3 linked regions of the Homo sapiens genome follow. The protein of the gene in region 2 interacts with the protein of the main gene of each other region in a pairwise test. Each region holds a gene or a part of one and is shown on either strand. Other genes may lie near its edges. The genes, in order: METAP1, NBR1 and ATXN1L.

Evidence for each region.
Region 1: the proteins of NBR1 (region 2) and METAP1 interact in binary tests that used the Homo sapiens proteins (3 or more experiments, as listed by UniProt).
Region 3: the proteins of NBR1 (region 2) and ATXN1L interact in a two-hybrid assay, tested with the Homo sapiens proteins (one large-scale study listed by BioGRID).

The regions. Positions count from the first base shown.
Region 1 is NC_000004.12:98,998,703-99,002,352, forward strand, and holds part of METAP1 (methionine aminopeptidase 1), read left to right. Parts: intron 1-3,650. UniProt on the Homo sapiens protein: Cotranslationally removes the N-terminal methionine from nascent proteins. The N-terminal methionine is often cleaved when the second residue in the primary sequence is small and uncharged (Met-Ala-, Cys, Gly, Pro, Ser, Thr, or Val).
Region 2 is NC_000017.11:43,188,158-43,191,807, forward strand, and holds part of NBR1 (next to BRCA1 gene 1 protein), read left to right. Parts: intron 1-884; coding exon 885-962; intron 963-1,430; coding exon 1,431-1,645; intron 1,646-2,451; coding exon 2,452-2,619; intron 2,620-3,214; coding exon 3,215-3,424; intron 3,425-3,650. UniProt on the Homo sapiens protein: Ubiquitin-binding autophagy adapter that participates in different processes including host defense or intracellular homeostasis.
Region 3 is NC_000016.10:71,848,826-71,852,475, reverse strand, and holds part of ATXN1L (ataxin-1-like), read right to left. Parts: intron 2,853-3,650; 5' UTR 2,736-2,852; coding exon 666-2,735; 3' UTR 1-665. UniProt on the Homo sapiens protein: Chromatin-binding factor that repress Notch signaling in the absence of Notch intracellular domain by acting as a CBF1 corepressor. Binds to the HEY promoter and might assist, along with NCOR2, RBPJ-mediated repression.

The sequences.
Region 1 (3,650 bases), on a different chromosome or scaffold from region 2:
CACCATTAACAGAAGTAAGGCATTCCCAGTTACTCTGTCACACCACCTTGTTTATTCCTTTATGACCTTTTGTGCAATCTATGATTACCTCACCTGTTAGAAAAATGAGGATTTTTTTTTTTTTTGAGACGGAGTTTCGCTTTTGTTGCCCAGGCTGGAGTGCAATGGTGCGATCTCGACTCACCGCAACCTCCGCCTCCCAGGTTCAAGCAGTTCTCCTGCCTCAGCCTCGCAAGTAGATGGAATTACAGGCATGCACCACCACGCTCAGCTAATTTTGTATTTTTAGCAGAGATGGGGTTTCTCCATGTTGAGGCTGGTCTCGAACTGCTGACCTCAGGTGATCCACCCTCCTTGGCCTCCCAAAGTGCTGGGATTACAGGCGTGAGCCACCATGCCCGGCCGAGAATGTCTGTTTTTTAGTCGGAAGGTGAACTTCATGAATGATCCTATCTTGTTCACTGCCCTGTTCTCATTTCCCAGTATGATGCTCTGTATGCAGTAGGTGGCCATTAAATGTTTGAATTAATGGATAAATGCATCAAAATAGAGAGGTATACTGCTGTGTTTGAATCACAGCTCCATCATTTACTAGTTATGTGACTTGGGCAAATAACCTCTCTTTTTCAGCTGTATCTTTTTAAAATGGGGCTATTAATAATACCTATCTCAGGGTTTTGATGAAGACTAAATCCAAAGTATGTAAAGCTCTTAGCATATTAGTAAACTTAATGAATGTTAGCTCTTTTTATTGTTATACTGTTTTATGTTTAGGAAAGTAGAAATATTTTATCTAGGATGCTTAATTTTTTTTTTTTTTTTTTTTGAGACCGAGTCTTGCTCTGTCACCCAGGCTGGAGTGCAGTGGTGTGATCTCGGCTCACTGCAACCTCTGCCTCCCGGGTTCAAGCGATTCTGCTGCTTCAGCCTCCCCAGTAGCTGAGATTACAGGTGCGCACCACCACGCCTGGCTAATTTTTTTGTATTTTTAGTAGAGACGGGCTTTCACCGTGTTAGCTAGGATGGTCTGTAACTCCTGACCTCGTGATCCGCCTACCTCAGCCTCCCAAAGTGCTAGGATTACAGGCATGAGCCACTGTGCCAGCCTAGGATGTTTGATTTTAAGGAAAGCTTTTGTTCTTTAGAGGAGTACAACCAGTTTTACTTGAAAATTGAGTTTTCCAAGAGTTCTTGATGTTCGATTGTGTTTATTAATAGAAGTTTTCCTTCCTATTTAATAGTTTATGTATGTCTTTTTCATTTGTGTGTAAGAATTTTTTGAGGACAGAGGGTGTGTTTTACTCATTTTTGTATTTTCCAAAGTGCCTTGCCCACAGTAGGCCCTCATTTCCTTACATGAAAGAAAAGACATCAGTGGGCTTGCAATGGAAAACAAAGAAATTCTGTATTTACATTATCCTTTGTAAACACTGAATAGTATAGTATATTGTTGATACACTCATTTATTTGCTTATGGTTGAATTTAGTTACTTTTCAGTTTTTTAGCTGATGTTTAACTTTGTGAATAGCATAGGGCAGTTGCTGTCTCCTCTGGTTAGAGGATCAGCTGGGAGGGACCTGAGTGATCTGTAACTATTTATATTTATAAGGCATAAAAGGTAGTAAGCATAGTGTAAGTGGAAGGAGACCTGGATTTTGCTCCCATGACCTTGGGTAAGTCCCCTCCTTTGCTTAATGAAGCATCCTCTTCAATGGAGTTGAGCAGAAGGTGACTAAGAGAGCATCCAGGGTGCCTAGTAGAGCATATAGTAAATTTGGGCCTTATTGTGCATATAACCTCATATGTAATGTTATTAAAATCAGTACCAAGGAAGGCTTAAAAATCTTTGAGGGGAAATGTTACTTGTTTATGAACATTTTTGACAAATCCAATAATAGGTTCTTTAAAAGAAGTGGTAGGTAACATGATTAACTGAATCCAGGAAGAAAGTCTTTTTTTTTTTTTTTTTTAAATAACAAGACAGTTTTTCTTCTCTCTCTCTCTTTTTTTTTTTTTGAGTTGGGATCTTACTCTGTCAACCCAAGGTTGAAGTGCAGTGGCGTGATCTTGGTTCACTGCAACCTTCACCTCCCAGGCTCAAGTGATCCTCCTACCTCAGCCTCCCAGGTAGCTGGGAACACCAGTTTGAGCCACCACACCTGGCTAATTTTTTGTGTTTTTGGTAGAGACGGGGTTTCACCGTGTTGCCCAGGCTGGTCTTGAATTTCTGAGTTCCACTTTGCCTCAGCCTCCCAAAGTGTTGTCTATACAGGTGTGAGCCACTGCACCTGGCTGGAAGAAAGTCTTGTTGAGCATCTTGTAGGTTGGAGTTAGAAGGTAGAGAAGGAATTGCCGTTATAACATGCAGTATCTTTGAAATGCAACCCTGCCCTCTGAAACTTTCTCTGTCAGTAACAACATTCCTGCCAGTGCAGGGTGTTTCTGGAATTCATCTTCATTAAAGGAGATATTATCATGTTGTGCGTTTTTATTTATAGGGATTTTCTTTAAATTCCTCATGTCACTTCAGACCACCCTTAAACACTCCTGTAAGTTAGCTGAGTTTAGGTACAAATGCCATAGCTTCTTATAAGCAAAAAGATAGGATGAGGTAAAGAGAAATTATGAGTCTTTTTAAAACAAAACAAAAATAATTTCATAAATTGTTTATTGTAGAAAAATAGAAAATATGTGTGAAGATAATCAATTACCCAGAGATGATTTCTATGAAATTTTGGTGTGTATTCTTAAGAACATATTTGCGTATTTATTCATGTGCACACAGTTGTGTATGTTTTTACAAAAATGGCAACCATAATACATATAATCTTAGAGAATTTTCTCATCCTTAATGTCTTAACCAGTGTTTTGGTAGTGTCATGTCATGGCTACATTTACATGATCCTTTATAAAGACTGTTATGGGTGTACTGTCATTTGTTTATTCACTTATAGTTGAATTTAATTTCTTTTCAATTTTTTACCTTCTGTTTACTCTTCAATAAATATTCCTCGAAAATTTAAATCATTTTGACTTACTCAGGAACGTATAATAATGGTACAGGATTTGGTACATGAACCCAGAATTGAACTATCCTAAGCTAATTCTATATCCTTTTCCAGAACAGTGGTTCTCACAGTGTAGTTAGTGGATTATTGTTGGTTTGAGGGCCTTCTGGTCATCTATGAAGTTTTGGCATGAAATATACCTACATTACAGTAGAATTTGTAAAACAACAACAACAAAAAAACGAGCATCATTTGGTTGGTAGGCAATCAAAAGTTATACCAGTCTTTGAGTTACCTTTTTGGAAATTGAAGTGCTATAGGAAATGTGATCTTATACTGTTCACTTAGTTTGTGGATTGAAATCAAGTTTTAGTCATGGTTTTTTAAGGTGAATCTTTTTCATGTTTAGCATATTTGCAAAATTTTAGTTAAGTTTTAGTAAATTTCATAGGAGTGACAGACATAAGTGCATAGCTAAGCTCATTCCAGCTCTAGATATTCGGAAGAAAAGCAGTGGCACGGTAACTCCTTCTGTAATTGTCTTTGGTATTACTGCAATAGCAAACACTTTTAGATAGATATTAAATAGGCAGAAATACTTTATAAAGCAACCGTTGAGCTTCATTCTGTATCAAATGTTT
Region 2 (3,650 bases):
GGGATTACAGGCGTGAGCCACTGCGCCCGGCCTGATTTGCATTTCTCTAATGACCAGTGATGATGAGCTTTTTTTCATAGGTTTGTTGGCCGAATAAATGTCTTCTTTTGAGAATTGTCTGTTCATATCCTTTACCCACTTTTTGATGGGGTTGTTTTTTTCTTGTAAATTTGTTTAAGTTCCTTATAGATTCTGGATATTAGCCCTTTGTCAGATGGATGGATTGCAAAAGTTTTCTCTCATTGTGTAGGTTGCCCGTTCACTCTGATGATAGTTTCTTTTGCTGTGCAGAAGCTCTTTAGTTTAATTAGATCCCATTGTCAATTTTGGCTTTTGTTGCCACTGCTTTTGGTGTTTTAGTCATGAAGTCTTTGCCCCTGCCTATGTCCTAAATGGTATTGCCTAGGTTTTCTTCTAGGGTTTTTATGGTTTTAGATCTTATGTTTAAGTCTTTAATCCACCTTGAGTTAATTTTTGTATAAGGTGTAAGGAAGGGGTCCAGTTTCAGTTTTCTACATATGGCTAGCCAGTTTTCCCAGCACCGTTTATTAAATAGGGAATCCTTTCCCCATTGCCTGTTTCAGTCTATCCAATTTCTAGATTTATTTCTCATTGTCTTTGTTGTAAGATTTGCACATTTATCAGAGATTTGGGAATTAGTGTGCTCCTCTCTCTGACTTTTGAAACTGGTAATAGTTTACTTCTGTAGAAGGGGAGCAGGCTAGAGACTTTGTTTTCCTTTAGTACGCCTTCATACTGTGACTTTTTAAAAAATTATATACTTGTATGATTTCACAAAAGAAACCTCAAAATAATACACTCCAGGAAAAGTATTTTAAATAGAAAAAGTAACCTCTAACATCTCGGCTTGTGTTTTCTCCCAGTCGTTTCCACTTGTTCCATGTGACACAGACCAGCCTCAAGACAAGCCCCCAGACTGGTTCACAAGCTACCTGGAGACGGTGAGTGTTCTGTCTCGCTTGGGTTTTAACTGCGGTGTTGGCACAGGTGGAATGTGGAAGAAATAGAAAACTGAACCCAGGTGGCTGCTGCCTCTAGTACCGGTGAAGAGTGGTAGCTTATAATTTCCAAACTTAGAACAGTTCCAGTCGAGAAAGCTCTAACCTTTGCAGTGAAGTGTCAGAAAAAGAGGGAGTCTAATTCTAAGCATGTAAGGGAGAGGGACAACTCTCTGCTTGAGAAAAAGTTAGAAATTTACTTATCAAAAGGATGTTTTGATATTTTCTTCGAACCAGTTTAGCTGTGGAAGGAATAGACCTTTTGCTATGTTTCTGTCTATTCAGTAGCAGTTGTTTATTGTGTTTTTGTATTATACCAGAGACAGTTAGGTTTCAGATCTATTGATATCTTCACATTTTTTTCTGATATTGGAACTGAGTTTTTTCCCTACCTTCTGCTCCATATTCTAGTTCAGAGAACAAGTGGTTAACGAAACGGTTGAGAAGCTTGAACAGAAATTACATGAAAAGCTTGTCCTCCAGAACCCATCCTTGGGTTCTTGTCCCTCAGAAGTCTCAATGCCTACTTCAGAAGAAACATTGTTTTTGCCAGAAAACCAGTTCAGCTGGCATATTGCTTGCAACAACTGCCAAAGAAGGATTGTTGGTGTCCGCTACCAGTGTAGGTAAGCAGTTGCTTGGGAGTAGCTAGCTAGTGATAGACCTTACAGCTTTTACCTCCCTGGCTTTCTGTGTAGGTAAAGGGAAATTAATTGTACCCTGTTTCTGAGCATTAGATGTTGTAGCTGTGAGTTGGAAGCACAAGCTACTCTTCACCCACATGCTTTGTATGTTGTAACTATTCAGATTGTTGTGTTCAAATGTGCATTTGGATTAGCAAAGCCAGGCAAAATTATGTTCCCCTGAACGGACAAAATTAGATCACTAAGGGTAGTTCCTCGGTTGTTCCAAATGCCTTTTTTTTTTTTTTTTTGGTGACAGGGTCTCTGTCACCCAGGCTGGAGTGCAGGGTGCAATCATGGTTCACTGCAGCCTCACCCTCCCAGGCTCAGACAATCCTCCCACTTCAGCCTGCCAAGTAGCTGGGATCACAGACTGCCTTTTAATTATTTTTTTGGAGATGGGGTCTCCCTATATTGCCCAGGCTAGTCTCAAACTACTGGACTCAAATGATCCTCTTCTCCATGGCCTCCCAAAGTGCTGGGATTACAGACATGAGCCACTGTGCCTGGCCCCATGTACTTTCACATCTTACCTTCCTCCCATAGATTTTCATTTAAAATGGATATGGGTTAAGTGTTATTATCCTCATTTTATTAATGAGGAAAATTGAGGCATGGCATAGTCAGATGGCATGCTCAGGTTACCTGCTAGTTGGTACTGGAGCAAACATAGAAGTATGGTCTTATATCTCCCTACCCCAGGTACTTCCTATTCTGCCATTGTGTATTGTGCCATTCTTTCCCCACAGCCTATGCCCATCCTACAATATCTGTGAAGATTGTGAAGCAGGGCCATATGGCCATGACACTAACCACGTCCTGCTGAAGTTGCGGAGACCTGTTGTGGGCTCCTCTGAACCGTTCTGTCACTCAAAGTACTCTACTCCTCGTCTTCCTGCTGCTCTGGAACAAGTCAGGTAAAACCCTCTACATGGAGATGCTTATTCTCTGATTGACTTCTTGGTTCTGGTGACAGGGTATGAATCACAAAACTACAGATAGTCTCCTTAGTTCTGCTCATTTTCAATTGATGTGCAATAATGAAGACAGTTATCCAAAGTTAGTGAAATAGAAATAATAGCTATAAAAAGAAATTAAGAAACTAAAGTAGGCTGGGCACAATGGCCCATAACTGTTATCTCAGCAACTTGAGGGGCTAAGGTGGGAGGAGTGCTTGAAGCCAAATATTTGAGACCAGCCTGGGCAACATAGCAAGATCCCGCCTCTACAAAAAAAATTTAAAAATTAGCCAGGCGTGGTGGTGCGTACCTATAGTTTCAGCTACTTGGGAGTCTGAGGTGAGCAGATTGCTTGAGCCCAGGAATATGAGGTGGAAGGGAGCCATGATTAGACCACTGTACTCCAGCCTACATGACAGAGTGAGACCCTAATTCTAAAACAAAAAAAGAAATTAAACTGGAAGCTGACACTGATGGAAATTGCAATTGGCTCCACATAGCTTCAGAATTTATTTGTGACTTTCTTTTAAGACTTGCTTTTATTATCTCACAGGCTCCAGAAACAGGTTGATAAGAACTTTCTTAAAGCAGAAAAGCAAAGGTTGCGAGCTGAGAAGAAACAACGTAAAGCAGAGGTCAAGGAACTTAAAAAGCAGCTTAAACTCCATAGGAAAATTCACCTGTGGAATTCAATCCATGGACTCCAGAGCCCCAAGTCTCCTTTAGGCCGACCTGAGAGCTTGCTCCAGTCTAATACCCTGATGTAAGCCCAGGACTGGGGTGGGAGCCAAAACTTTAGGCCCAGCTCTCTGAAACTGGAACTTCAACCAATTTCCGTCTTATTTATTGGTAGCCCTTAACACCTAAATCTTTAAAACTTTCCATTATCTGGTCTTAGTATTTTTTGTTTGTTTGTTTTTTGAGACAGAGTCTTGCTCTGTCACCCAGGCGGTAGTGCAGTGGTGCGATCTCGGCTCACTGCCAGCTCT
Region 3 (3,650 bases), on a different chromosome or scaffold from region 2:
CCCCCGTGCTGCTAGAAGCCTTGTAGGCAGAATGGTGAGGAGAGATGGGGAAGGGCTATGAAGCAGAGGATCAAGCAGAGTCCTGCAGATGAGAGTGCTCCTCCCCCACACACCCAGCCATAGACATCTGGAACAAAATCACCCTTTAAAGTGCGCATCTCTCACAAGAAGGGTTCTGGGTGGGAACCCTCTTATTTCCAACCTTGGGGCCTCCTGCCCTTCTACCACAAAAAAGAAAAAAAACTTCTGACAGTTTAACTGCTACTATAAGCTGTGGATCATCATTTTTGGCTCTTTCTTTACTCCCTCCCTCTGCCATCTGCTCCCAAAGCCTGGACTTTCTCTTGCAGGAGCTAGGGATGGGGAGGAAAGAACAGGGAGGCCCTGATTTTGGAATGTTTCTTCTCCTGTGTGCACCCCCTTCCTTCCTTGCCCCAGGCCTGCTGCTCCCCATCACAACACCCTCTGGGGTTGTCCTGAAAGGATGCCATGGGGTAATGAACAACAGATCCTGCCTTGGGAGGCTGACTTCATGCCTCCCCTTTCCCCCAAATCTCACTGCCAAGAAAGCCATTCCCTGCTCGGCGTGTGCAAATCCTCTGCCTGCTCACGGCGGCGAGGCGAGGCTCTGGGGTAAAGCCCCAGTCCTGGTCTGGGGAAGAGGTTCATTTTCCCGCATTGGAACGCCCTTCAATGGACAGCTTTACCTCCTGTGGAATGAAAGAGGGACGGAGCAGCGCAGCCCGTGCCTCCTCCCCTTGCATGCTGTATCTTTGGAAGCTCGGGGCTGGCCAGCAGGCCTGAGCACCGGACTCAGGCTGGGAAGGCTCTACCACACGGGAGCCCTCTCCTGCCGGCTGGCTCTTCCCCTCACTGTCACATAGCTCTCTGGATCCCAAGACCGTCCTCTCAGGCCTTTCTCGGGGGGGACCCAGCTGGCTTGGGGGAGCACAGCTGGCCTGAGAAACTGAGTTACTGTTCAAGCTCTGTAAACTGATAGAGATGCAGACATCTCCCACCTGTAGCCGATGGCAGGGCAGAGAGAAGAGTTGTGTCGTCCGCCCAGGGCTGCAAGAGGACCAACCCTGGCCATATACAAAGAAGGGGTGCTCGGGGGGCACTTCGATGCTCACTTTGCTCTGCTGCTCACCAACCACAAAATGCAGCATGACAAATCCAGGCCATTGGCTCTCCTGAATGTCCACGACCGTGCTAGAGTCAATCTTCAGCCCCCCGCTCACTTCGGCACTGCGCACAAAATCCTGGGTCTGGAGGTCCTCCACCCGCTTCAGCTCTCCCGTAGCCAGCTGGATGATGGCGCCTTTCATGAAATGGGAAGGCAAGTGAGAGGAGGTAATGGGGGGCGGCGTTGGCTCCTTGTCTGGGAAGGTGGCTCTGGCCTGCACGTCCAGACTTGATGCTACCAGGATCTCCGAGCCCACAGGCAGCAGGCCTGAGTCAGTTCCAGTGGGCACCAGGTTGCCATTGGCTACAACCATTGCTTTGGGTAAAGGTCTATGTTTTACTGGTTCCTGATGGGACTGAGGGTAGAACCCACGGGCCTGACTTTTCTCTGCCAGCTCTGCAGGGTTCCTGGCTGACCCTCGCCCCTCACCCTGATGGTCGGGGGTATGATGGGATAGGTTGAGGGGGCTGGGTTCCTCCTTCCTCTGAGCTGCCACCACACGATAGTCCTGAGAAGCTAAAGCGCCAACCACCCGCTGGACCTCAAGGTCAGTGTCCGGGGTCCCCCGGTGTGCTGGTGCTGCTACCTCTACCCGTGGAGTCTGAGAACCTGAAAACAACTGTCCATCCACCACACATTCTACCACTGGCACCAGTCCCTGGCCTTCACCCTTGCTGTTGGGGGAGTCAAGGGCTTCACTTTCCCGTCTTACTAAATTTCGCTCTCGTGGTCTCTGTCCTCCATTTGCAGCAGCTGCTTCCAGAGCAGACTGGCTCTCCTGAGGGGTAAGAACTGGGCTGGCACCTGCTGGAGGGGTTTCATGCAAAGTATACCCAGCAGGTAGCCTGGACATCTGATAATAAATGGGCATCCGACCTGGAGCAAGGTCCAGCGGCTGAGTACTTGAATGATGTGGCAATTGCCCAGATGGGGAGGTGGCAGAGGGAGCTTTGTTAAATGAGTGGGCCGGGGAGGGAGCCTGTGGGGGAGGAGTGGCTCCTTCAGCCAGAAGTGAGGCATATGGCACAAAGTGTGGAAGGTGAGAGGTGGCAAGGTTGGCAGAAGGAGATAGGAGGGGACTCGGTAGGAAATTAGGTGGCACAGCATAGGGAAGGCTATAAGGAGACCCAATGAACTGCAGCGAGGTGGATGGGAGCTGAGCATAGTGGAGTGGAGGATAGTGGATGCCTGGATGTTGAATTAGTGAAGACGCTACATTAAACGTTGGGGGCAAGGGACTCATATTCACCACAGATGGGAGTCCAGTTGGTGAAAAGGTGGCAGGCGGCACAGCCACCTTATACAGCATGCCATACTGGTCCACTGTCAGACCGGTGATGGCCTCAGCTCCATCACCCCCCAGGCTGACTCTGGCTCCTGCCTGGCTCTGCCCAGCCACCACAACCCCTCGGGACCATTCAGAAGCATCACTGGAGGGTGTGTGGTTAGTGGAGCAGCTGGTAGTTCTCCCCATATCCTCGCTGGTCACGGGGAGGTCTCGTTTCTTTGGTGGAAGGCATTCCTGACTCCTTTCATGAACAGGTTTCATATTGCTTTGTGGTGTTCCTGGAGCCTGGAAGGAGTCGACTTGCTCCCTGGGGCATCAGAAGGGGCTTCTCTGTAGCTTCCCTGTACCCCTCTCTGCTTCTGGCTGGGGCGCCCACATCTATTAGGGAACAAATCAGAGGCAAAGAAAAGTAACCTAGGGATGAGCCAAGACAAAGGAAATAGAAAGAACTGTGCCATGGAGGAAGATGTAACAAAGGGGACTGTTAGAAAATAAGGAGGAAAGAGAAAGGGGCAGACAAGGAGGCTACCCCCAACTCATCCAGCCTGGGACATGAGAGAAACAGTCGGGGAAATCACAAGGCACAAAGAGCTACAGGGACACGCATTCACCAATGCACAAATAACCTGTGGGCTCCACAAGCCCAGGGAGACCAACAGCTTCACGGTTAGTCATGTGTCTCATAAGCACCTTGTCTCTTTTCTGCCTTCTTCCCAAAGGGGGCTTTGAACACATGGTCTTTCCTGCTGGCTCTTTTGCTTTTTTTTTTTTTTTTTTTTTTTTTTAAAACACATGGAGTTTTGCTCTTGTTGCCCTGGCCACAGTACATGGTGCAATCTCAGCTCACCGCAACCTCGCCTCCCGGGTTCAAGCAATTCTCCTGCCTCAGCCTCCCAAGCAGCTGGGACTACAGGCATGCACCACCACGCCTGGCTAACTTTGTATTTTTAGTAGAGATGGGGTTTCACCATGTTGGCCAGGCTAGTCTCGAACGCCTGCCCTTGGGTGATCCGCCCACCTCAGCCTCCCAAAGTGCTGGGATTACGGGTGTGAGCCACAGCGCCCAGCCTCCTGCTGGCTCTTTTTCTTAAGTTTCTCCTTTTGCTACCAAACATGAATGTGCCACCTTCTTTCCTGAACATATGACCTCATCCTTGCTTCCTTTCTGTAGCCTAA